Linked DNA regions of Homo sapiens: region 1 is linked to region 2. Evidence: fine-mapped expression QTL. Tissue or cell type: pancreas. Region 2 holds a variant in brackets; the other region holds the start of a gene. All regions are shown on one strand. Distances are from middle to middle.

The links. PIP is the estimated chance that this variant, and not a neighbour inherited with it, causes the effect.
Region 1: UGDH starts here. The variant in region 2 is fine-mapped to the expression of UGDH in pancreas (GTEx, PIP 0.90).

The regions. Positions count from the first base shown.
Region 1 is chr4:39,523,777-39,534,849 of GRCh38, forward strand. It overlaps UGDH (UDP-glucose 6-dehydrogenase), which reads right to left and starts at 3,663. Exons shown (of 12, transcript NM_003359.4): 1 at 3,507-3,663. UGDH-AS1 (UGDH antisense RNA 1) reads left to right here and starts at 4,063. Exons shown (of 5, transcript NR_047679.1): 1 at 4,063-4,562; 2 at 8,193-8,354. RefSeq lists silencers at 3,378-3,557, 3,808-4,107 and an enhancer at 4,488-4,547.
Region 2 is chr4:39,550,403-39,566,829 of GRCh38, forward strand. It overlaps SMIM14 (small integral membrane protein 14), which reads right to left. Exons shown (of 5, transcript NM_174921.3): 4 at 6,026-6,168; 5 at 1-1,756. The coding sequence ends at 1,724. All of the region lies in intron 2 of UGDH-AS1 (UGDH antisense RNA 1), which reads left to right. Among named protein-coding and RNA genes, the nearest start is that of UGDH-AS1, 31 kb to the left of the region's middle. The variant G/A (reference allele first, on the strand shown) is at 8,296.

The sequences.
Region 1 (11,073 bases), 29 kb before region 2:
GCCTGGGCAACAAGCACGAAACTCCATCTCAAAAAAAAAAAAAAAAATTATTGATTCTGAATAATGTTCATATGGTTCAAAATTAAATCTGTTGTAACAAGGTACACATGAGAAGTCTCACTCCAACCCCTTCCTTATCTACTTTGCTATCCCCTACTTTGCTTCCACACAAGCAATCCGTTTTCTTGTATATCCTCCCAGCTACAAGTAAATATACATATATATTCTAATAATCTTGTCTTTCTAAATTCAATAGAATACCATATATACTATTAACACCTGGCTTTTTTCACTTAATTAAACCCAGTATATCTAGAATACCTAAAGAGTAGAATCTCAAAGTAATGTTGGACCAGAGGATCTTTTAGGGTTACCACTTAATCTCCTAGCCAAAAGGTTATTAGGGCAGCCTTTACTCTTAATCTCAACCAGGACAGGTTCTGCTAACACATTTATTAAATGTAGAATCAGTGTCTACTCGTTGCAGCTCCTGGGCTTAAGGAGTTCATAGTTTAATAAGGCACAGCCAGGCTAACAGTTATTTGCTGCTGCTCCCTGCTGTATCCTTGACTCCTAGAATAGCAGCCTCTCAATGATTATTAATTGAATGAATGAGTAACTCTCCACAAGGGCGTCTCTTTTTGAGATGAAGACTTCTGTGTAAATAGCTTTAGTTCAGATTGCCGATCATAGTATTTTTGCAGTAATTGACCAGAATACTATCAACTTTTTTTTTTTTTTTCTGACACAAGGTCTCACTCTGTTGCCCAGGCTGGAGTGCAACAGCACAATCTGGGCTCACCGCAGCCTCCGCCTCCCAGGTTCAAGTGAGTCTCCCACCTAGCCTCCCAAGTACCAAGTACCTGGGACTACAGGTGTCCGCCACCATGTCCAGCTAATGTTTGTATTTTTTCTAGAGACAGGTTTTCACCATGTGGGCCAGGCTGGTCTCAAGCTCCTGACCTCAGTTGATCCACCTGCCTCAGCCTCCCAAAGTGTTGGGATTACAGGTGTGAGCCATCGCATCTGGCCAAGTTCTTTTTTTGAGTTACCTAAAGAACTTCAGCATGTTTCCCCAGAGTTACTTCTTATCTGCCTTGATTGTGAGACCACATTTCAACTTGCTTTACATACATCAGCTGGGATAGACTACTGATGGCAGGTGAACTTGTATCACAGAACTGGATGTGTTTTACACAAGCTTTATTTTGGGTATTCTCGCCTTGCTATTTCCCATGAAATACGGCTTACCGATGACAATGGGAGAATCAATGAAAAGGCTGATGTACAATCTGTGCAAGTCCAAATAAATGCTCACTTGGAAGTTTCAATAAAATCTTCAATAAGCTTTAACATGGAGTTTGACATAGTGTTAGTGACACACTTTGCATGACACAGATGTCTGCCAACTCCATTTTCTATTTCTTTTTTCTTTTTGAGACGGAGTCTCACTGTCACCGAGGCTGGAGTGCAGTGGCACCATGTCGGCTCACTGCAACCTCCGTCTCCTGGGTTCAAGCAATTCTCCTGCCTCAGCCTCCCGAGTAGCTGGGATTACAGGTGCCCACCACCACGCCCAGCTAGTTTTTATATATTTAGTAGAGACGGGGTTTCACCATATTGGTCAGGCTGGTCTCGAACTCCTGACCTCAGGTGATCCATCCACCTTGGCCTCCCAAAGTGCTGGGATTACAGGCGTGAGCCACTGCGCCCAGCCCCATTTTCTTTTCTTTTTCTTTTTTTTTTTTGAGACGTAGTCTCGCTCAGTTGCCCAGGTTGGAGTGCAGTGGCGCAATCTCGGCTCACTGAAAGCTCTGCCTCCCAGGTTCATGCCATTCTCCTGCCTCAGCCTCCCGAGTAGCTGGGACTACAGGCGCCCGCCACTACGCCCGGCTAATTTTTTTTTGTATTTTTAGTAGAGACGGGATTTCACCATGTTAGCCAGGATGGTCTCGATCTCCTGACCTCGTGATCCGCCCGTCTCGGCCTCCCAAAGTGCTGGGATTACAGGCGTGAGCCACCACGCCCGGCCCCCATTTTCTATTTCTACTTTTATGTACCCTCTGGCCCTCTATTCTGCTGTCAGAGACATAGGAGTGTTTCCTTATTAAATGGGTTATTTTGAAATGAGTTTTTACCTCTGTATTTTGGGAGAGTCACAACAAACCAAACCGTTCCAAAACTACTCTTCATGTAAAATTTCATAAATTCAAATAAACATTCCAACCCAGAAGGGGTCACTAACAAATAACAAATGCCCTACTACAATCTAAACGGAATATAATCCTTCTAGCCCCAGCTCTCTACAGCATATTTTGCATAGGTACCCAGGAGCTAACGATGGGCATTATAGTTGGATACATCAGCTTCACACATTTTAATCATTTCCAGAAATTAAACAGTAAAAGATGCCTGACCAGAGAAAAATATTTAATCAGTAAGAAAGCCGGTATTAATTTTATGTCTAAGGGTTATCATGTAAAGCTGTGGAAGTAAACAAGAAGGAAGATGGATTATGCTTATCCAGTTATAGATTTTGTTAGAAAAAGGAGTACAGCAACGGGAGAAGAAATGAGATCTTTTCAATCAGGGTTGTCTACCCCTTACCTTAAACTGGATCCTGGCCACTAATAAGCACATCTCAGAGCAGACAGTCAGCTCTTTCATTTCCAGAACCCCCCTGAAGAAAGACTACTGTTCTCCATTTCTTAAGGGATTTGAAGAAACTCAAAGGCTCACTGTGTCTTTGAGGTCTGTCGATAGACAGCTACTGCTCTGTATGCCCATGAATAGATCCCTACCAGCGAACCCCTCTTTTCTCTATACTAGAATTCCTAACCCTACTAAGTTATCTTCCTATATATTTATAGGACGTATAATTTTTCAAGATCTCACACAAACATGGTCTCCCGAGGCACCCAGGAAAGGCCTTCCCCGACATCAAACAGAGCAATTCTGTGGTGTAGGGGGCCAACAATGGATTCCAGGACATCCCGGACAGATATCACGGCAGTCTTAGTATTTTGCTCTCAAGAGGGCTTTCTGGCTTCGTTTCTCTTTGGTTTCTTAAGAGGGGCGGCATGAGAAAAGCAGGAGCCCCTCAGGTGAGCAGACTCTTAAACACAAACAAAAGACTACGACTCTGCGGCCAAAATGAGGTCCCCAACGAGAGAACCGCTTCCTGTGGTGGGCGTTCGGCTTTGGAGGCGGCAGGGAAATCTCATCCAAGTCAGGAAAGTGGGTAAAGGCAGAAAGAGAAGGGGCTGGAAGACTCACGAGTCTTGAATAAGAAGCCCAGACGACCACATCCCCAGGACAGCAGTTCCAAAATGCGGTTCCCGCCCTAAGCCCCAAAGAGACGAAGGTCGTGAGACGGGAAGCCCGGGACCCAGCGCAGCGAGCGACCGGGAGCAGCGCGCACACCCCAGCCCCGCTCCCTCCACATCCCGCCCAGACCTGGGAGCATCCCGCCCGGGCGGCGGGGCCAGCCTGGGAGCGGCGCTTACCCACTTCCCAGCAGCAAGCGCAGGGACCGCTCCTATCCCGATCGTTCGGACAGCACCTTCCTACGGGCCGCGCCGCCGCAGCTTCTCCACCCGCGCCCCGCTCGATCTGAGCTCCCTCTCGGCGCACGCCCCTCCCTCAGGCTGCCACGCGTTACACTCTGAGTCCCGGGCCTGAGCCCGTATTTAAAGGCTTTTGCCTGCGAAGGCGGAGGCTTCATTCCCCCGCAGCCAGGCCCTCCTGGATTCTGCCCTCAGCTGCTTCCTAGCTCCCCCTCCCGCTACACAAGGCCCAGGGCCAGGTCCCTATTTCCTTCACGGCTCAGGGGCGGGGAGACTGGGGCTGGTCCTGGCTGGGAGGGCCTGCCCCGCCCCTGGCCTAGCTGGGCAAATCCGCTTTGGCCAGCTCAGCGGCTCCGCCCCTACCGCGAGCGGCGCTGGGCGGGGCTGCGTGCGTGGCGTGTCCGCTGGACCAGGGGACGGGGGCGCGCCGCAGGTGTAGGAGCTTTGCGCGCCTACCTGGCGGTCGTGGGTCGAGGAGGGGTCAAGAATTGTTGTCTAGCAGCCCTCTCCCCGCTGCCCTGTCCTGGCCGAGGCAAAGGCCGCGTGCGCTCCGCGTCTGCCAGGCTTTAGGGCTGCGCGGACACTGGGTGGGTGGTGGGCCGAGGCGACCGGAAGGTCCTGGCCGCCTTTCCGGTCTCCTCAGCACCCTGGAGCGCCGCCCTCGGGTTTCGGTCTCCTGGATCTGCGGGTCGGTCTCGGCGGGCGGATTACTCCTCGCCCACAACCTCGAGGCCCCGGGGTCAACCGCGCCCTCCGGGCCGGCAACCCAGGGTTTAGTCAGATTCCTCCTGACCCACCGCTTCTGGGAAAGAGGCGCCTCCCGTCAGGAGGATGCTGAGTTCCTCATGACTGGACCAGTGAGTGTCCACTCCCTGGTCCCTGGCGAGAGAGGCGGGACCCCCACGCCCTCCTGGCGCTCTTTGCAGAGATGTTCCTCAGGCCCAATCCGGGATTTGGGATGTCTGTGCGTGCTGTGGAGCAGAGAGTTTGCAACATGTAAGTGCCGTGCGTGAGGAAGAGTAAAATTAACCTATGGAGCCTGCTCATTTTTAATGTGGAGGGCAGTTCCGTTCCTTTCTTTCGCCGCTTCGAGGTCATTTTAACACTCAAATCTAACATATAAGAAAAAAAGCCAGGCATAATCATGGCCTTTTATTTCCCTCATTAAGGATTACATCAGGTGACATAAGCCATTTTAACATACATCATGAAGAAAGTGATTAGTAATTTATAAAGGCACATTAAAATACCATATAAATTACGGTTTTCTTGATAGGATCATGATGGTGACTTTAAGAAAGTGGTTGAATGTGGATGAAACAGTTTGCTGTGGATTGTAGCACGTGTGGCAGGATATGTAGGCTTGTTGGTTGGTTGTTTTGAGACGGAGTCTCCCTCTTGTCGCCGAGGCTGGAGTGCAGTGGTGCGATCTCGGCTCACCTCAACCTCCTCCTTCCAGATTCAAACGATTCTCCTGCCTCAGCCTCCCGAGTAGCTGGGATTACAGGCGCCCACAACCATGCCCGGCTAATTTTTATATTTTTAATAGAGACCGGGTTTTGCTATGTTGACCAGGCTGGTCTCAAACTCCTGACCTCAGGTGATCCGCCCGTCTCGGCCTCCCAAAGTGCTGGGATTACAGGTGTGAGCCACTGTGCCTGGCCAGTATATGTAGGCTTTCTGCATTCTATGCAGTTCAGTTCATTCATCCAACAAATATTTAATGCCTGTTGTGTGTCAGACGTTATCCTAAAGACTGAAGATGCAAAAGGGATTAAGACTCAATTCCTTTGGCCAGGCACGGTGGTTTACGCCTGTAATCCCAGCACTTTGGGAGGCCATAGCGGGCGGATCACCTGAGGTCAGGAGTTCCAGACCAGCCTGGCCAACATGGTGAAACCCCGGCTCCACTAAAAATACAAAAAGTTAGCCGGGTGAGGCGGTGGGCACCTGTAATCCCAGCTGCTCAGGAGGCTCCCTGTTGCAGTGAGCCGAGATCACACCACTGCCCTGCAGCCTGGGGAACAGAACGAGACACTGTCTCAGAAAAATAACCAAACAAAAAAGACTCATTTCCTTCTTGCAAAGCTCACAGGTTGGGTAGAAGAGATATGTAAACAAGTAATTGCACTAGATATGACAAGTACATCTTTTTGAACATACATAGATTTAAGTTATCTAATACAGTTTGCTTTGTAATAAAAACCACTTATCTTAGTCCCTTCATTTTGAATTCAACATTTTTCTATTTAGTATTCACCTCACATTCTTTTTTAGTATTTTGGTAGAATCAGACTCTTCAAAACGGTTAATAGGATTTCAGAAATTAAGTCAATTTTCAGTGCCAGCTAGAATGGACCTTTGGATTTAGGACAGAGGTTCTCCAAATGTGAGCTGGGGACTGTAGACAATCTCCGAGGTTCTTTCTGGGATCCATGAGGTCAAAAAGTTTTCATGTGTTACTTGCTTTTTTCACTCTTGTTCTCTCAGAAGTGTACAATGAAGTTTTGTGGAGACTATAATGTGCTATCAAAGCAAATAGAATTAAGCTGTTTTTTAAGTCAGATATTAGAGATTTACAAAAATGTAAAACAATGCCAATCTTATCTTTTGTTTTTAAAATATAGTAATTTTTCATTAAAATATGATATTTATGTTAACATGTAATGGGCTTATTGTCAATTTTAAGGAATTAATCTTTTATATATAATTTATCAGTTTTCATTTCTAATATGGTAAATACCAATAGTTACAATCCACATGAAAAAAACTTCTTTGAGTCTTCAATTTTTAAACATGCCAAGGGGTCTTGATACTACAAACTTTGAGAACTGCCAAGGTAGGCTAGTTATTTTCAAATTATGTTTCATGGAGCCCTGAATCCTCTGGTAGTGTGTCAGAAATCTGTGAGGATAGAGAATCAGTAGGAAGTTAAAGACAAGGCTCTGGGTTCCCACATCTCCCCGTCTTCTCTAATGGCAGTTCAATTTTTCTCTGTTTATCTGGTTTTTTGTTTTTTGCTTTTTGTTTTTTTTTTCTTGAGACGGAGTCTCGCTCTGTCATCCAGGCTGGAATGCAGTGGTGCAATCTTAGCTCACTGCAACCTCCACCTCCCAGGTTCAAAAGATTCTCCTGCTTAGGCCTCCCAAATAGCTGGGACTACAGGTGCGCACCACCACATCACGCTAATTTTTGTGTTTTTAGTAGAGACAGGGTTTTGCCATGTTGGCCGGGCTGGTCTCAAACTCCTGACTTCAGGTGATCCACCTGCCTTGGCTTCCCAAAGTGCTGGGATTACAGGCATGAGCCATCATGCCTGGCCTGTTTATCTGCTTTTTGTATCAATTAGGTGGAGACTCTCAAACTTCAATTCTTGACTACTGTGTACCTACAGGCTCAACACCAAGTGGAAGCTGCCAAGGCTTGGGGCTTCCACCCTCTGAAGCAATAGCCCAAGCTATGCCTCAGCCCCTTTTAGTTACAGCTGGGGCAGCTGGGACACAAGGCACCAAGTTCCTAGACTGCACACAGCAGAGGGATCCTGGGCCCGGCCCACAAAACCATTTTTTCTTCCTAAACCTCCAGGCCTGTGATGGGAGGAGCTGCCATGAAGATCTCTGACATGCCCGTTTTCCCCATTGTCTTGGTGATTAACATTCGGATCTTCCTTACTTATGCAAATTTCTACAGCTAGCTTGAATTTCTCCTCAGAAAATGAGATTTTCTTTTCTGTCATGTTGTCAGGCTGCAAATTTTCCAAACTTTTATGTTCTGTTTCCCTTAAAAACTGAATGCCTTTAACAGCACCCAAGTCACCTCTTGAATGCTTTGCTGCTTAGAAATTTCTTCTGTCAGATACCCTAAATCATCTCTCTCCAGTTCAAAGTTTCACAAATCTCTATGGCAGGGGCAAAGTGCCGCCAGCCTCTTTGCTAAAACATAACAAAAGTCACCTTTGCTCCAGTTCCCAACAAGTTCCTCATCTCCATCTGAGACCACCTGATTGGATTTCATTGTCCATATAATTATCAGCATTTTTGTCAAAGCCATTTAACAAGCCTCTAGGGAGTTCTAAACTTTCCTGCATTTTCCTGTCTTCTTCTGAGCCCTCCAGACTGTTCCAACATCTGGCTGTTAACCCAGTTCCAAAGTTGCTTCCATATTTTTGGATATCTTTTTAGCAGTGCCTCACTCTACTGGTACCAATTTACTGTGTTAGTTCTTTTTCATGCTGCTGATAAAGACATACCCAAGACTAGGAAATTTACAAAAGAAAGAGGTTTATTGGACTTACAGTTCCACATGGCTGGGGAAGCCTCATAATCATGGTGGAAGGTGAAAGTCATGTCTCACATGGCAGCAGACAAGAGAAGAGAGAACTTGTGCAGGGAAACTCTCATTTTTAAAACCATCAGATCTCATGAGACTTATTCACTATCACAAGAACAGCACGGGAAAGACCTGCCCCCATGATTCAATTATCATCTGCCGGGTCCCTCTCACAACATGTAGGAATTATGGGACCTACAAGATGAGATTTGGGTGGGGACACAGAGCCAGTCATAGTAAGGTATTGTTTGGGTAAAACATAAGCCTTTCTTTCCTTTCTTTTTTTTTTTTTTACAGGGTCTCACTTTGTCACCCAGGCTGGAATGCATTGGCATGAACACGTCTCACTGCAGCCTCAACCTCCCAGGCTGAAGTGACCCTCCAACTCTGCTTTCACAGTAGCTGTGATATGGTTTGGCTGTGTCCCCACCCACATCTCATCTTAAAACCCAGTGGGAGGTAATTGAATCATGGGGGCAAGTCTTTCCTGTGCTGTTCTTGTGATAGTGAATAAGTCTCATGAGATCTGATGGTTTTTAAAAGAGTTCTGGCTGGGCATGGTGGTGGGCACCTGTAATCCAAACTACTAGGGAGGCTGAGGCAGAGTGAATTGCTTGAACCTGGGAGAAGGAGGTTGCAGTGAGCCGAGATTGCACCGCTGCACTCCAGCCTGGGCAAAATTGAAGACTCTGTCTCCAAAAAAAAAAAAAAGGAGTTCCTCTGCATAAGCTCTCTCTCTTTGCCTGCTGCCATCCATGTAAGATGTGACTTGCTCTTCCTTGCCCTATGATTGTGAGTCTTTCCCCAGCCACGTGGAACTGTAAGTCCAAATAAACCTCTTTCTTTTGTAAATTGCCCAGTCTTGGGTATGTCTATCAGCAGCATGGAAATGGACTAATACAGTAAATTGGTACCAGTAGAGTGGGGTGTTGCTGAAAAGATACCTGAAAATGTGAAAGTGACTTTGGAACTGGGTAGCAGGCAAACATTGGAACAGTTTGGAGGGCTCAGAAGAAGACAGGAAAATGTAGGAAAGTTTGGAACTTCCTAGAGACTTGTTGAATGGCATTGACAAAAATGCTAATAGTGATACGAACAATAAGATCCAGTCTGAGGTGGTCTCAGATGGAGATGAGGAACTTGTTGGGAACTGGAGCAAAGGTGACTCTTGTTATGTTTTAGCAAAGAGACTGGTGACATTTTGCCCCTGCCCGAGAGATTTGTGGAACTTTGAACTTGAGGGAGATGATTTAGGGTATCTGGTGGAAGACATTTCTTTTTTTTTTTTTGTGACGGAGTCTTGCATTGTCGCCTGGGGTGGAGTGCAATGGTCTGATCTCAGCTTACTGGGTTCAAGCAATTCTGTCTCAGCCTCCCGAGTAGCTGGGATTACAGGCGTCCGCCACCACGCCCTTCTAATTTTTTGTATTTTTAGTAGAGACGGTTTCACTATGTTGGCCAGTGGAAGACATTTCTAAGCAGCAAAGCATTCAAGAGGTGGCTTGGGTGTTGTTAAAGGCATTCTGTTTTGACTGGGTGCGGTGGTGCACACCTATAATCCCAGCACTTTGGGAGGCCGAGGAGGGTGGATCAAGAGGTCAGGAGTTCAAGACCAGCCTGGCCAATATGGTGAAACCCTGTCTCTACTGGAAATACAAAAATTAGCTTGGCATGGTGGTGTGCGCCTGTAGTCCCAGCTTCTCGGGAGGCTGAGGCAGGAGAATCGCCTGGACCCGGGAGGTGGAGGTTCCATTGAGCCAAGATCATGCCACTGACTCCAGCCTGGGCAACAGACTGAGACTCTGTCTCAAAAAAAAAGAAAAAAAAAAAGGCATTCAGTTTTATAAGGGAAGCAGAGCATAAAAGTTTGGGAAATTTGCAGCCTGACAATGTGATAGTAAAGAAAATCCCATTTTCTGAGAGGAAATTCAAGCTGGCTGCAAAAATTTGCATAAGTACCAAGGAGCCGAATGTTAATATCCAAGACAATGGGGAAAATATCTCCCAGACATGTCAGAGGTCTTCATGGCAGCCCCTCCCATCAACAGGTCCAGAGGCCTAGGAGGAAAAAGTGGTTTTGTGGGCAGCACCCAGGGTCCCCATGCTATGTGCAGCCTAGGGACTTGGTGCCGTGCGTCTCAGCTCCTCCAGTGGTGACTGAAAGGGGCCAACATAGAGCTCGGGCTGCTGCTTCATGGGGTGGAAGTCCCAAATCTTGGCAGCTTCCATGTGGTGTTGAGCCTGCGAGTACATAGAAGTCAAGAATTGGGGTTTGGGAACCTCCATCTAGATTTCAGAAGATATATGGAAATTCCTGGATGCCCAGGCAGAAGTTTGCTGTAGGGGTGGGGCCTTCATGGAGAACCTCTGCTAGAGCAGTGCAGAAGGGAAATGTGGGGTCGGAGCCCCCACACAGAGTCCCCGCTGCGGCCCTGCCTGATGGAGCTGTGAGAAGTGGACCACCGTTCTCCAGACCCCAGAATGGTAGATCCACCGACAGCTTGCACCGTGTGCCTGGAAAAGCTGCAGACACTCAATGCCAGCCTATGAAAGCAGCCTGGAGGGAGGCTTTACCCTGCAAAGCCACAGAAGTGGAGCTGCCCAAGACCATGGGAATCCACCTCTTGCATCAGTGTGACCTGGATGTGAGACATGGAGTCAAAGGATATCATTTTGAAGCTTTAAGATTTGACTGCCCTGCTGGATTTCAGACTTGCATGGGTCCTGTAGCCCCTTTGTTTTGGCCAATTTCTCCCATTTGGAATGGCTATATTTACCCAATGCTTATACCACCATTCTATCTAGGAAGTAAATAACTTGCTTTTGATTTTACAGGCTCATAGGCAGAAGGGATTTGCCTTGTCTCAGATGAGACTTTGGACTGCGGACTTTTGAGTTAATGCTGAAATGAGTTAAGACTTCGGAGGACTATTGGGAAGGCATGATTGGTTTTGAAATGTGAGGACATGAGATTTGGGAGGGGCCAGGGGTGGAAGGATACGGTTGGGTTCTGTGTCCCCACCCAAGTCTTATCTTGTAGCTCCCATAACCCATGTGTCTTGGGAGGGACCTGGTAATTCAATCATGTGGGCTGGATGCGGTTGCTCATGCCTGTAATCCCAGCACTTTGGGAGGCCAAGGGGGAGATCACTTGCGATCAGGAGTTTGAGACCAGCCT
Region 2 (16,427 bases):
TCCCCAGTAGCTGGGATTATAGGCACACACCACCATGCCTGGCTAATTTTTGCATTTTTAGTAGAGATAAGGTTTCACCATGTTGGTCAGGCTGGTCTCGAACTCCTGACCTCAGGTGATTCGCCTGCCTCGGCCTCCCAAAGTGCTGGGATTACAGGCGTGAGCCACCGTGCCCAGCCCATGCAGACATTTTTAAGTGCTATTGGTATTCACTTTATTTCAAACTGAGCAAAACAATACAACCTTTTACTTTTTTATACATTTTAAAATTTCTCTCATATTAACATTCCTTCCTACCCCAATCCATCCCATCACCAAACAGGAATGAGATAAGGAGTGAAAAAAAGATGTATGTTTCTCATTTTCCTTCTTTTCCCTTGAAGTAAACCAGTAATTTATTAAAATATTTTATAGGTCAGAGGATAACAAAAGACTCAATGTAGTAAATAAGTAAATAGGCATTCAAATATCAGTAACCTAACAGGCCCTAATACAGCTTTAAGATTTTCTTCTTTTTTTTTTTTTGAGAGGGAGTCTCGCTCTATTGCTTAGGCTGGAATGCAGTGGTGCGATCTTGGTTCACTGCAACCTCCACCTCCCGGGTTCAAGCAATTCTCCTGCTTTGGCCTCCTGAGTAGCTGGGATTACAGGCACATGCACCAACCCTGGCTAATTTTTCTGTATTTTTAGTAGAGACAGGGTTTCACCATGTTGGCCAGGCTGGTCTCGAACTCCTGACCTCAAGTGATCCACCCACCTCAGCCTCCCAAAGTGCTGGGATTACAGGTGTGAGCCACTGCACTGGCCTAAGATTTTCATTTTAACAGGGAACTGTTAGAACAGAAAAGAAGCTTCCCAAGAGGCACTCATTTTAAAAATAAATTATAGCTTAAATTATTACTATGTGGATTATATCAGCAAAGGCAGAAAGAATTAATGTTTTCCTCCTTTCATGAACCTTGTAAGGCTAGTGTTGAGTGGCTTACAAATGTCATATAATGGACTGTAAATCATCTGCCATATTGATCAATCATGTTTATTTAAGGTTTTCTTAACATTAGAGATTTTTAATGGGAGTATAAAATTAGTAAACAACCATTTCATTTTTTCTCTCTTCCTATTCTAGCCACATAAGCCAGTTTAATCCATGACACAGATTTCAGCTGTAATTTGCAAAACAATCCAAGAGCTACCACAGTCCCCAAAACTACAGAAAACTGCCATCCACAAATAAACTACCAAGGTAAATGTAAATACAGCGTGGTTCTAATTTTCTTTCACACAATCCCAGACAACCCCAAATAACTTTATAAATACCTTATGAAAAAAAGCAATTTAAAAACCTATCAAATCTATTTAAAATATATAAATGCAGACCTCTCAAATTTCCTTCAATCAGGCCAGAAATTATCACAAAAATTATAATCACAGTTACAAACAGAATGAGTGGAATGTTTGTAAGTTTAGGACAACCAAAAAAGCCCCATGTAACTTTTTAAAAATATAATCATTCACTCAAATATACTGTAAATAGGAATGGCAGTAACACAGGAAGCAAAAATAAACTTGCAAGTGAAATTTCTAGAAGCTCATGAAAACAATACCATCCCATATTGCAGATACAAAAGGAAAAACAGTTCTAATGGGGTTAAGAGTACTCTGGTCATCTTCGTTCGTTTGGTCGTGCAAGGTGTTAACTATTTTCACTTCCCATATCACAAAGTTAGTCCACAGGAGGAGCTGGTGGATCTTGTCCCTGGCATTAGAAAGAAATAAATTATTTAATTGACTTTTTAAAAATTCAAAAAAATTTAAAATTTATTACTTTTTTAAAAATTGACTTATTAAATCCCAGTGCAACCAATCTAACACATAGAGAAACAACTGAGCAGCAATGCCCCCAACCATCCCATCCCAAATATATGCTTATTTGGACTTTTCATATGTTTTTACATGAGGGAACACTAGATTAAATAACACTGTGATTTTCCACCATTTGTCTCATTTTTCCCTGTAGAATGGAAGAGAGAGGGAATTTGTACAACAGTGATGTTATCACTCCTGCCAACCCCAGGAGTGATCTTCAAACCTATGAAAATATCTTCATCCCTCTTGCTAAAGTCGATTGGCTAAGCAAAGTACTGTATATTTAAAATGAAGCTAGGGACTTTTGTTTCTCAATACTGAATGTCTACGAGGATGCATGTGGCTGCAGTTGCTTCTGGTAGTCATCCTATAACCCTAAGGGGAGCCCATCTTGGAATGAAGTTGTTAGTATGAGGAAAGAAACTAGGTCTTTGATGACACTGTTGAAACTTTCTTAACACTGACCCTACCTCTGAATTTTTTTGACGTGTAAATCAATGAAGCCACTTGTTTTAAACCACTTGGAATTGACTTTTGTTAACTTGCAATAGAAAGCAAGTGAACTGTAAAGGAAAGATCAGAGTTTTTAAGATTCTCAAGATTTTATTTATTTACCCTGAAATGATACATGACGCCCGAGTTGGGGGTGATCAATATTTCTCCTTGGAATTAGTCTCAACACATTTTCTTACTTATTCCTAAGATAGTGGAACTACTATTCCTAGAAACACTGGCCTACAATGAATTAAGGTCCAGGAGAGGGTAATCTTGCATTTCTGTCATTTTAATAGTTTTTTTTTTTTTTTCCTTGAGACAGAGTCTCACTCTGTCGCCCAGGCTGGAGTACAGTGGTGAGATCTCGGCTCACTGCAAACTCCGCCTCCCGGGTTCAAGTGATTCGCCTGCCTCAGCCTCCCGAGTAGCTGGGATTACAAGCATGTGCCACCACACCTGGTTAATTTTTTTGTATTTTTAGTAGAGACAGGGTTTCACCATGTTGGTCAAGCTGGTCTCCAACTCCTGACCTCAAATGATCCACCTGCCTCAGCCTCCCAAAGTGCTGGGATTACAGGTGTAAGCCACCGTGCCCAGCCCACTGTAATGATTTCTAAGTCAGGTTATTAAGAGTTCTATTTCTTTAGCTCCAAACATTGAGGAATTTACTCTTTGATATGAAAGTAACAAAGCTATACAAAGAAAGTAAGAAAGAAGGCTAAGGAATAAACACTTTATCAAGACAATATGCAAGCTGTTTTATAAATACTCTCTTCTCCAAGAAAAAATAAAAATAAATGTAAGGCTTTTTATATAGTGCTAATAATGCCGGTTTTTTTTTTTTTTTGAGATGGAGTCTCGCTCTTGTTGCCCAGGCTGGAGTGCAATGGCGCCATCTCAGCTCACTGCAACCTCCACCTTCTGGGTTCAAGCAATTCTCCTGCCTCAGCCTCACAAGTAGCTGGGATTACAGGCACGCGCCACCATGCCTGGCTAATTTTTGTACTTTTAATAGAGACGGAGTTTGGTTATGTTGGCTAGGCTGGTCTTGAACTCCTGACCTCAGGTGATCCGCCCGCCTCAGCCTCCCAAAGTGCTGGGATTACAGGTGAGAGCCACCGCGCCTGGTCTATAATGCCTTCTTTCTTAAAGTTAGCATGCTACGTATCTTTTTTGTGTATGTTTTTCGTTTTGATTTTTTTTCTTTCTATGCTACATATCTAAATGTTCTATTCCTTAAAAAACAAAGCAAAACATTGACCAATTAACACTGCACATTTGCTTTCTCTTATATAAAAAATGAGTCTAACTGAACTTCTGATATCAACACCACAACACTGGAGAAAAGAAACAATTATTTTAGGAATTCCACAAGGTAAAGGTTGGAAAAGAGAATTAGTGGGATAATTTGGTATACAAGTGAATCTGGCCGGGCATGGTGGCTCATGCCTGTAATACCAGCACTTTGGGAGGCAAATGCAGGCACAGCACCTGAGGTTAGGAGTTCAAGACCAGCCTGGCCAACGTGGCGAAACCCTGTATCTACTAAAAATACAAAAATTAGCCAGGTGTGGTGACACACATCTGTAATGCCAGTACTTCGGGAGGCCGAGGCAGGCACATCACTTGAGGTCAGGAATTTGAGACCAGCCTGGCCAACATGGTGAAACCCCATCTCTACTAAAAATCCAAAAATTAGCCAGATGTGGTGGCGTGCACCTGTAATCCCAGCTACTCGGTAGGTGGAGGCAGGAGAATCACTTGAACCTGGGAGGCAGAGGCTGCAGTGAGCTGAGATTGTACCAATGCACTTCAGCCTGGAGGACAGAGTGAGACTCCATCTCAAAAAAAAAAACAACAAAAACAAGCAAATCTATCATGGAAATTTTCCTTTTTTTTTTTTTTTTTTTTTGATGCTCTATTACCTTATAGTTTTTTAATTATAAATTTTAACATTTATTTAAATTGACAAATAAAAATTGTATATATTTGTCATATACAACATGTTTTGAAATATGTATACATTTGTAGAATGGCTAAATAGAGGTAACTGGCAAATTCATGGAATTTTTTTTTTTTTTTTTTTTTTGAGACGAAGTTTCACTCTCACCGCCTAGCCTGGAGTGCAATGGCACGATCTTGGCTCACTGCAACCTCCATCTCCTGGGTTCAAGCAATTCTCTTGCCTCAGCCTCCCGAGTAGCTGGGATTACAGGTGCCCACCACCAGGCCCAGCTAATTTTTGTATTTTTACTAGAGACAGGGTTTCACCATGTTGGCCAGGCTGGTCTCGAACTCCTGACCTCAGGTGATCCGCCCATCTTGGCCTCCCAAAGTGCTGGAATTACAGGCATGAGCCACCGCGCCCGGCCTCATGGAAATATTTTTAAAGAGATAATATTCAAATTCAGTGTTAAAAAAAAAACATAAATACTGGTTCTGAAAAGGATTAAAAGGAATCCTTTAACAGAGGTTCTTTTTTTTTTTGAGACATAGTCTCACTCTGTAGCCCAAGCTGGAGTGTGGTGGTGTGATCTTGGCTCACTGCAACCTCTGCCTCCTGAGCTCAAACGATTCTCATGCCTCGGCCTCCTGAGTAGCTGAGACTACAGGCGCATGCCACCATGTCTGGCTAATTTTTTGTATTTTAGTAGAGACAGGGTTTCACCATGTTGCCCAGGGTGGTCTTGAACACCGGAGCTCAGGTGATCCGCCCCCCTTGGCCTCCCAAAGTGCTGGGATTGCAGGCGTGAGCCACAGTGCCTGGCCAACAGAGGTTCTCTTAAAGATAGTCCTGAAAACTCCCTATTGGGTCACTTTATCATAGTTTTAATTTAGAAGGTTCTAAAAATGGTTGTAATCATGACTATCAAGATTTATCAACATGAATGATTCCGACCTCTCCTTTTGCCAGCTCAGCTGATTTACTGTGGTACAGAAATGGAAAATGGGTTTGAGAGAAATAGGATGGGAAAATGAGGAAAATAAAATAAGACAGGCTCAGTGTCTCTACTGAATAGCTAGGACAGAAGGGGGTCAAACATTTCAACTAAAGCTACTAAGAGTTTAGGGGCTGGAAGCATGAGAGGCAAGGGATCAACTGTGAGGTGGACAGAACTGGGTAGTGGAGGATTGAGACTTGAGCAATATTGCTGTGGATTATGAAATGGATTATTTTTGATGCTTCTCATGTGAGTAAAGATTAGAATTCAAGCCTGGGCAACCTGGCAAAACCCCATCTCTACAAAAAAATACAAAAAACTAGCCAGGTGTGCTAGTGCATGCCTGTGGTCCCAACTACTTGGGAGGCTGAGGTGGGAGCCTAGGAGGTGGAGGCTTCAGTGAGCTAAGATCGCACCAGTGCAGTCCAGCCTGGGCGGCACAGCAAGACCCTGTCTGAAAAAAAAAAAAAAGGATTGGAATTCATTTTCAAATTAATTTTGGGCTTCTGGTCTGTGCTTCTTTCTGCATTTAACTCCATAAAGATTAAGCTGTCAATTAAATCTTGGAATTGCAATATTTAATAGAACTACATAGGTAGAATACTCTATGAGTTAAATATAATTTAACTAATTTAGGTGTTTTAGTCAAAACCAAGTCCTTCCCTGCCCCAGGCCACATACATTCCCTTACCCAAAAAGCATTTAAAATCTGCAACACTTACATTATGAGGACTGGTTGGCTTTCCAGGTAGGCTGGATCCTCTTAGATTAGGAGGTCTCAGTAAGAACAAGATCAATGCAATAACCATCCAGGCTACCAAGATCATTGTAACACTGATGCCATTATCACCAGAGGGTCCCGGTACTAAAGACAAACAAAAAATGTAGCATGCTCACAATATTGTTAAAAGTAAAAACAAATTCTAATGTTTAAATGTCAGTTTCAATTACTGTATTAATATAAAAATTGTATTGATAAATTACAAAAGTACATATTATATCTTCAATTTCCCTTTCCCCCAGTGAGAACATCTAAAAAGTAAATGATGTTAAATAGTCATAAACCAAAACTTAGTAAGTTTTTGTTGTTTTTGTTTTTTGAGACAGGGTCTTGCTCTATCAAACAGGCTGGAGTGCGGTGGCACAACCATAGCTCACTACAGCCTTAACCTTCTATGTTCATGGGATCCTCTCACCTCAGCCTCCTGAGTAGCTGGGACTACAGGTGTGTGCCACCATGCCCCATGCACCTAATTTTTAATTTTTATTTTTAGTAGAGACACTATGTTGCCTGGGCTGGTCTCTAACAATTTTTTTTTTTTTTTTTGAGATGGAGTCTCACTCTGTTGCCAAGGCCAGAGTGCAGTGGGACAATGTTGGCTCACTGCAACCTCTGCCTCCCAAGTTCAAGCAATTCTGCCTCAGCCTCCTGAGTAGCTGGGATTACAGGCATGCGCCACCATGCCCAGCTAATTTTTGTATTTCTAGTTGAGACGGGGTTTCACCATGTTGGCCAGGCTGGTCTCGAACTCCTGACCTCAGGTGATCCACCTGCCTTGGCCTCCCAAAGGGCTGGGATTACAGGTGTGAGCCACTGTGTCCTGCCCCACACCCCTAATTTTTTTTAAAATTTTTAGTAGTGACGACGTCTCACTATGTTGCCTGGACTAGTCTCTAACACATTTTTTAATAGTATAATAATTCTTAATATTTTGGGGTAACAGAATCATTTGAGAATTTGATAAAAATTAAGAACTCTTTCCATTTTAAGAATTCATGGGGTCTTCAACTGAGGTCTTGCAAGGCAAGCCGGCCATGCCATGTTTGTAGATTAATGAGGCTAGGGGCCCTAACTTCCCTAAGATCTACTTTTCTAGCTACCTTCTGCCCTGTGTCTGGCACCTACATCCTTCATGATTGTTCTTTTTGATCCATTCTGGATTAAAAATAAATATGAAAAGCACTCATGTATACCAAATTCCACAATTTTGTATATAATTGTGGAAGGTTTAAGAACCCACAAAGCCACGAATCCATATGAATCCAAGTTAAGACCACAGAAAAAACACTCTCCTTTGGGGGGAAAAATCTGCTTCTTAATTACAGAGGCATCATGAAAAAGAAAGGGGACATCTGGGCTGCGTAATATATACATTAAAAGACCCCTTGAATTACAGTCTCAACCAAAGAGATTAATTTGACCTTCTTTTTCACACAAAGGAGTTGAATTCAGATCTAGATATTTTAAAATTTTATCAATTTTTCTCTTCTATCAATTTTTTCTATTTATCAAGAGAAAAATGCTAGACAGGGATGTATGTGCGTATACAGGCATCAGTTTTTCCTGGTTCCTTGACATAGCCACGTCTTATTTAATTTGAAATAACAAGTGCCTAGCACAGTGCCTGACCCATGATATGAGGTTAACAAATTTCTAATAAATGAAACGTAGATTTTTTATTGAAGTATATTAGAGAACTCAATTTTCAGAAATAAAAATGGCCAGGTGCACTGGCTCACGCCTGTAATCCCAGCACTTTGGAAGGCCAAGATGGGTGGATTGCTTGAGCTCAGGAATTCGAGACCAGCCTGGGCGATATGGTGAAACCCCATCTCTGAGGGAGAAGAAAAGGAAAAATCCATTAGGTAAACAGTTAAGGCTGGGCCCCTAGAAGTGCTTGCCTGAAAAATCACAGCTGCTGCAGCTGCACAGATAAGCCTGGACAGATAAGCAGCCAGTAAAGCAAACAAGCCTTTTTGTTCTTTGTACAATCAGTGAGCTCCCAGGAAAAAGTTTCCTCCCCTTTTCAGGCATATACACAGTGGGCTCCGTGGGAACTTGCATAGGGCGGAGTGGGCTTACCTAAAAAAACCCAGTTATACAAAGAAGAGAAGCTGTGCTTTGTGCTTAGAAACAATCCCACAGCTGGAAAAAGGGAGTTGCACAGACAGCTTTTCGAAAAAGAAAAATTACTCAATCAGTTACAAGGAG[G/A]AGAGCAGTTTCTTTTTTTTGTTTGTTTTTTTGAGACAGAGTCTTGCCCTGTCGTCCAAGCTGGAATACAATGGCATGTCAGCTCACTGCAACCTCCACCTCCCGGGTTCAAGCAATTCTCCTGTCTCAGTCTCCCCTGTAGCTGGGATTACAGGCACATGCCACCATGCCTGGCTAACTTTTTGTATCTTTAGTAGAGATGGGGTTTCACCATGTTGGCCAGGCTGGTCTCAAACTCCTGACCTCGTGATCTGCCTGCTTCGGCCTCCCAAAGTGCTGGGATTACAGGCATGAGCCACCGCGCCTGGCTGCAGTTTCTTATAAAAGCATTTTGCATTCAGCTGTAACCAAGCTATCCACTTGGACTCCCCTCTCTGCAGAGAGCTTTCTCCTTTTGCTTATTACATTTTCGCTCCAACTTCACCCTTGTGACCATGCTCCTTAATCATTTTAGAGGCGAGACAAAGAACTCAGGGTGATACCTCACAAGAGAAACCAATATATGAAGGTGCATTGGTGAGACTGCAACATCTCTACGAAAATTAGCTGGGTGGGGTGGCGTGAGCCTGTAGTCCCAGCTACCCAGGAGGCTGAGGCACGAGAATTGCTTGAACCCAGAAGGCAGAGGTTGTAGTGAGCTCAGATTACACCACTGCACTCCAGCCTGGGCGAGTGAGCAAGACCCTGTCAAAAAAAAAAAAGAAAAGAAAGGAAAAGAAAAAGAAATAAAAATTATAGATTAGATTTCTAGAGGAAAATGTAGTATCCCTAGGTGATTACTAAAACAGCTTGTCAAGACCACAGCTGTTTGGTTTTGATCTCCTTGCCTCAGGAAAAAGTAAAAGAAATCCAGATAAGATGTTGAAACTAATCTGATACACTGCATTGGGTCAGTGGGTCCAGGGCTCAATTCCACAAAAGGGAAGGAATTGGTGGCACTGCTGAGGCCAAAAGGCTAGTGATAAAAGCGGACAAAGTCAAGTTAAGAGTTGCGCTGGCCCTGCTGCAACGAAGTCTTATGGCAAACAAATTAGTACAAAATATATATTAAAAAGAGCTGAGCTGGCCTAAGAGCAGGATGGATAGGAATGTAGCCTCTGTTCCAAACCCAGTCACTTCCCTAGAAACAGCTAAACAGGCCGGGCGTGGCAGCTCATGTCTGTAATCCCAGCACTTTGAGAGGCCAAGGCGGGCAGATCCCTTGAACTCAGGAGTTTGAGACCAGCCTGGGCAACATGACAAAAACCCGTATCTACAAAAAATTAAAAAAAAAAAATAGCCGGGTGTGGTGGTGTGTGCCTGCGGTCCCAGCTACTCAGGAGGCTGAGGTGGGAGGATGGCTTGAGCCCAGGAGGTGGAGGTTGCAGTGAGCTGTAATTGCACCACTGCACTCCAGCCTGGGCAACAGAGCCAGACACTGTCTCAAAACATAAACAAAAACAAAAACAAACACTTTCTTCCATTGTCTTCTGTGTCACTACCATTGTCTAACAGTTGGACACTCCTTCATCAATAATTCTCTTTTTCTTTATATCAACAGTTCTTTTCTTTTCTTTTTTTTTTTTTTTTGAGATGGAATCTCGTTCTGTCACCAGGCTGGAGTGCAGTGGCGCGATCTCCGCTCACTACAACCTCTGCCTCCTGGGTTTTATTTGTAGTAGAGCTGGGATTTCACCATGTTGGCCAGGCTGTTCTCAAACTCCTGACCTCAGGTGATCCATCTGCCTTGGCCTCCGAAAATGCTGGGATTACAGGCATGAGCCACCGCAATCAGCCAACATCAATAGTTCTTAAACTATGGTATATATCAGAGTCAACTGAAAACTTCTTAAAAATGCAGAAATCCAGGAAGCACGAGGTCAAGAGATCACCCGTGAAGCAGAGGTTGCAGTGAGCTGAGATCGCGCCACTGCACTCCAGCCTGGCGACAGAGCAAGACCCCGTCTCAAACAAAACAAAACAAAATGCAGAAATCCCACCTTCCACTTAACATATTCAGTACTTTAGTATTCCAAACAAAAATCATGAGCATCTCCCCCGCCCTACCCCCTTCCACCCCAACTACCAAACTGGATCTCTGTTCATCCAGTTGCCCAGGGCAGAACCTAAGAAAACACCTTTTTTCTTTCTCAACAGCCCTGTATTTAATCCATCATGAAGTTTCTTGCAATTTTTCCTCCTAAATATCACTTGTATCTGCCCACTTTTAGCTCCATGTCCCCACCTGCTCAAGCTACCATAACCTCTTATCTGGTCTATTGCAGTGGCCTCTTAAGGGATCTCCCTATATCTACTCCTGCTTCCCCTGTGCTCTATATTGTTTCCAGAGTGATTTTTTTTTCTTTTTTTTTAAAAGCAAATACATGTTGAGTTTCCCTGTGTGAAATGCTTGGGAATACAAGTGTTTCAGAATTCGGATTTTTTCAGATTTGGGGATATATGCAATATACTTATTGGTTCAGCAGCCCTAATCCTAAAATCCAAAATCTGAAATGTTCCAATGAGCATTTCCTTTGAGCATCATGTCAGCACTGAATAAGTTTCAGATTTTGGAGCACTTCAAATTTTCAGATTAGGGATATTCAACCTATACTATTATTTTTATTTTAAATAATAGTTAAGGCCAGACCTGATGGGGCTCATGCCTGTAATCCCAGCACTTTGGGAGGCCAAGGCAGGAAGATCCCTTGAGCTCAGGAGCTCAAGACCAGCCTGGGCAAAATGGCTGGTGCTGAACTTCTGGCCTCATGCAATCCTCCTGCCTTGGTTTCCCAAAGAGCTGAGATTACAGGTGTCAGTCAGTAGTCATGCCCAGCCATGACTTTTTAATATTCTTTGCAAGTAAAAAATTCTGAAGCTTAAGAGAGTTAAACCTCAGATTCCAAGTTTACTAATTCTTATTTCTAGACAAAGGATCCCTGATTCTTTTTTAGAATCTCACGCCGGGCACGGTGGCTCACACCTGTAGTCCCAGCACTTTGGGAAGGTAAGGCAGGTGCATCACCTGAGGTCTGGAATTCAACACCAGCCTGGCCAACATGGTGTTGGCCATCTCTACCAAAGCCCATCTCTACTAAAAATACAAAAATTAGCCAAGCATGGTGGTGCACACCTGTAATCCCAGCTACTTGGGGGGTTGTAGCGGAAAAATTGCTCGAACCCGGAAGACAGGTCGCAGTGAGCCGAGATCGTGCCACTGCACTCCAGCCTGGGCAACATAGTGAGACTCCATCTCAACAACAACAACAACCAAATAGTAATGTCCACTTCTTTTTTAGAATCTCACAATAGTAATATGACTCGTAGTTCCCTTAACTATCTCCTAGCTTGGTTCCTATTGCAGCTTTTCCTTCTTGCTTACTGCTGCCAGAAAAGTCTGCTTAAAACTGTTCTTGGCTGGATACAGTGGCTCATGGCTGTGATCTCAGCACTCTAGGAGGCCGAGGCAGGAGGATCCCTGGAGCCCAGGCGTTTGAGACCAGCCTGGGCAACATAGTGAGACCCCTGTCTCTACAAAAAAAATTAAAAAATTAGCTGAGTGTGGTGGTGCAGGCCTGTAATCCCAGCTACTCGGGAGGCTGAGGTGGGAGGATCACTTAAGCCCAGGTGGTCAAGGCTGCAGTGAATTGTAATCACACAACTGCACTCCAGCCAGGGTGGCAGAGACAGACCCTGTCTCAACCCCCAAACAAACAAACAAACAAACAAACAAAAAATCCCCTCTGCTCTTAACACATCTCTGCTGATCAATGTGGTAACTCAGTTTCCACTGCCTACTGTTTCAACTCTGGGGTTTTTCTGTTTTTATTGAGTCAGTGTCTCACTCTGTCTCCCAGGCTGGAGTGCAGTGGCACAATCACAGCTCACTGCAACCTTTGCCTCCCAGGCTCAAGTGATCCTCTCACCTTAGCCTCCTGAGTAGCTGAAATTGTAGGCGCATGCTGCCATGCCCAATTAATTTTTTTATATTTTTAAAACTTTTTTTATTTTTTAGAGACAGGGTCTCACTATGTTGCCCAGGCTGATCTCGAATTCCTGAGCTCAAGTGATCTGCCCACCTTGGCCTCCCAAAGTTCTGGAATTACAGGCATGAGCGACCCCACCTGACCCTAATTTTTGTATTTTTAGTAGAGACGGTGTTTTGCCATGTTGCCAAGGCTTGTCCCTAACTCCTGAGCTCAAGCAACCCACCCACCTAAGCCTCGCAAAGTGCTAGGATTATAAGCATGAGCTACTGTGCCCAGCAACTCTAAGTTCTTTAGCTCAGCCTTTCCTCATATGATTGGGCCTTACTCATCTAATCTTACCTCTTACCACTTCTCAGAAAATGCATCCTCTGCTCTAGTCACCCCCATACCTCTTCTTTTTTTTATTTTTTTTGAGACGGAGTTTCACTCTTGCTGGCCAGGCTGGAGTGCAATGGCACAATCTCTGTTCACTGCAACCTCTGCCTCCCGGGTTCAAGTGATTCTCATGCCTCAGCCTCCCAAGTAGCTGGGATTACAGGTGCTCGCCTCCACACCCGGCTAATTTTTTGTATTTTTAGTAGAGACTGGGTTTCACCATGTTGACCAGGCTGGTCTCGAACTCCTGATCTCAGGTGATCCACTCACCTCAGCCTCCCAAAGTGATGGGATTACAGGCATGAGCCACCGCCCCCGGCCCCTCTTCTTTCTCTAGCCAAGGATTCCCTGGCCTGGCTATGCATCAGAATAGCCTGTGACAGTATCAACACCACAGATTCTAAGGCACTGCCTAAGACCATCTGATTCAGGAGCAGCTTCGGGGTGGGATCAGGAGCCAACAATATTTTTTAAAAGCTTTCCAAATGAATCTGATGCAACAGTTGAATGCGAACTTGTCTGGCAGCATTTGCCAACTATGCAAATTCAGTCTTCCTGGGGTACTCGTTATTTCCCTGTCTGGCATGTTCTTACAACTAACTCCATTTATTCACCTATAACCTACATCCCTCTTCCATAAAAATCTCCATTTCCTCCACCCACTTTTTCCTCTGCCTTCTCTGGACTAGTATAGCATTTCTAGTTTGAAGGAATGGTTTCCCGTCTCTCCTAATTAACTTTTTAAGAACTGAGACCATCTCATAGCTGTTTGACTGTACCACCTCTTAGGTATATAATCCCTGAGCCTCAAGTTTCTTTTTCTTTTTTCTTTCTCCTCTTCCTCCTCCTCCTCTTCTTCTTCCCCTTCTCTTCCTCTTCTTCTTCTTCTTCTATTATTATTATTTTGAGACGGAGTCTTGCTCTGTCACCAGGCTGGAGTGCAGTGGCACCATCTTGGCTCACTGCAACCTCCGCCTCCCAGTTTCAAGCAATTCCCCTGCCTCACAAATAAAATGCCAAATGGAATATTCACAATGAAGCTGTTAACTTAGCTGGATACCAAGAGGATGAAAAGGTAGAGACAGAGGCTCTAAGAGCTGGCCCATCCTCAGAAGATTATTTGTATAAACTTATATAGGTTTCCGCTGGGGAAAGCAAAAACAGAACAGCAGTGAAAGTGGACAATACACCGGTATGCTCTAACCCTGTAGTTTTTGGTCCTATACAGTAATTACATTATCCTAAGCACAGCTACCAGTTTTCAAGCTGAGTCAAGGGTGATCTCTATCATTCCCTAATGTAGATCTGTTATTCTCCTACAGGCTGAGTATTCCTACTCTAAAAATCTAGAATCCTCCAAAATCCAAAACTTTTTGAGAGCTGACATCATGCTCAAAAGAAATGCTTATCGGAACATTTCACATTTTCAGGTTAGGGATGGTCAACTGGTAAATGAATCTGAAAAAATCTGAAACTGAATACACTTCTGGCTCCAAGCATTTCAAATAAGGGATATTCAACCTATACTTTCATATTGTGTTCTGCGAGGGTGCCCCATAGTGTTATTTCAGATTAGCGTTTTTTAGATAAAGATAACCTGAATGGAAAGCATCCTCTCTTTTGTTTAAAGGATTCTATTAAAAATGAAATACATGACTTTTAAGCAGGGGGCTAAGGGAAGCCTCACTAAGAAGGCACTCTGGAGTGAAAATGTAAAGAAAGTGAGGCTGTCAGTTGTGAGATTATCCGAAAGAAGCACATTTCAGGCACAAGGAACAGCGAGAACTCCTGATTCAGGAGCCTGTGGGATGTTCATGGAGGCCAATGTGGCTGAAGTGAAGTGACCTGGGATTGGTGGTATAGTGAGGTGGGATATAAGAAAAAGATTAAGCTGGGTGTGGTGGCTCACGCCTGTAATCCCAGCACTTTGGGAAGCTGAGGTGGGAGAATCACTTGAGGCCAGGAGTTCAAGACCAGCCTTGGCAACATAATGAGGTCCTATCTCTACAAAATAAAAAACAAACAAAATCAGCCAAGTGTGGTGGCACACACCTGTGGTCCCAGCTAATCAGGAGGCTGAGGTGGGAGGATTGCTTGAGCCCAAGGGGTTGAGGTTGCAGCAAGCCATGATTGCACCACTTTACTCCAGCCTGGGCAACAGAGTAAGACTTTGTCTCCAGAAAAGAAAAGAAAAAGATTAAATCAAAAGAGTAACAGGATTCAGATCATGTTGGCCTTATAGGTCATAATAAGCTTCTATTACATATTAAATAGAAAACCACTGAAGAGGGCTTTTCTTTTTTTTGGACAGGGTCTCACTCTGTCACCCAGGTTGGAGTGCAGTGGCTCAATTACAGTCACTGCAGCCTCAACCTCCCAGGCTCAAGTGATCTCCTAACTCAGCATCCAGAGTAGCTGGGGCATAGGCACAGGCCACCACGCCTAGCTAAGTTTTATATTTTTTGTAGAGACAGGATTTCAACATGTTGCCTATGCTGGTCTTGAACTCCTGAGCCCAAGTGATCTGCCTGCTTTGGCCTCCTAAAATGGGATTACAAGTGTGATCCACTGTGCCCAGACACCACTGAAGAGTTCTGAGCAAAATGCAGATGATATCTGACTCTCATTTTGACAGAACCACTCCATCTGTTGTGTTTTGAAAAACGAGAAACAGAAACACAGTGATATGGTTTGGCTGTGTCCCATCCCAAATTTCATCTTGAATTGTAACTCCCACAATTCCCATATGTCATGGGAGGAACCTGGTGGGAGGTGATTGAATTATGGGGGGCGGGCCTTTCCTGCGCTCTTCTCATGATAGTAAACAAGTCTCACGAGATCTCATGGTTTTAAAAAGGGGAGTTTCCCTGCACAAGCTCTCTTCTCTTGACTGCCACCATGTAAGACATGCCTTTCACCTTCCGCCATGATTGTGAGGCCTCCCCAGACATGTGGAATTGTAAGTCCAATAAACCCTTTTCTTTCGTAAATTGCCCTGTCTTGGGTATGTCTTAAATTAGCAGTGTGAAGACTGACTAATACAGACAGTTAAGAACCTGTTGCAATAATCTATTAACATACGAGATGATGATGGCCTAGAACAGGGAGGAGGCAGTGGGATAGTGAGAAGTGGTAGAATTTTGGATGTATCTTCAAGATAGTGCTTGCTGATAGATGACTGGACAGTGTGAGAAAAAGGGAAGCCAAGGATGAGTCTCAGAAGGATAGAACTGCCATTAACTGTTATAGGAAGGATCTCAAGAGAAGCAGAAATTCTGAAGATGTTGAATTTGAGGTGCCTTGTTAGACATCCCAGTGGAAATGCCCAAAAGACAGTCATCAGCATACAAGTAATGAGTCATGAGACCAGATGAGATCACCAAGTGAGTGAATGTCTAGAAAAGGAAATAATCCAGGGGCTAAGTCCTGGAGCATTCCAAGGATAAAAGTTAAGAGGTCTGGAGGACAGACAGACGCACCGAGAAAGAAGACAGCAGATAGCCGCAATGCAGCCAGGCACAATGGCTCATGCCTGTAATCCCAGCACTTTGGGAGGCTGAGGTGGGTGGATCACCTGAGGTCAGGAGTTCAAGACCAGCCTCGGCAACATACAGAAACCCTGTCTCTACTAAAAATACAAAAATTAGGCCAGGCGTGGTGGCTCACGCCTATAATCCCAGCACTTTGGGAGGCCATGGCAGGCGGATCATGAGGTCAAGAGATCGAGACCATTTTGGCCAACATGGTGAAACCCTGTCTCTACTAAAAGTACAAAAATTAGCCAGGCGT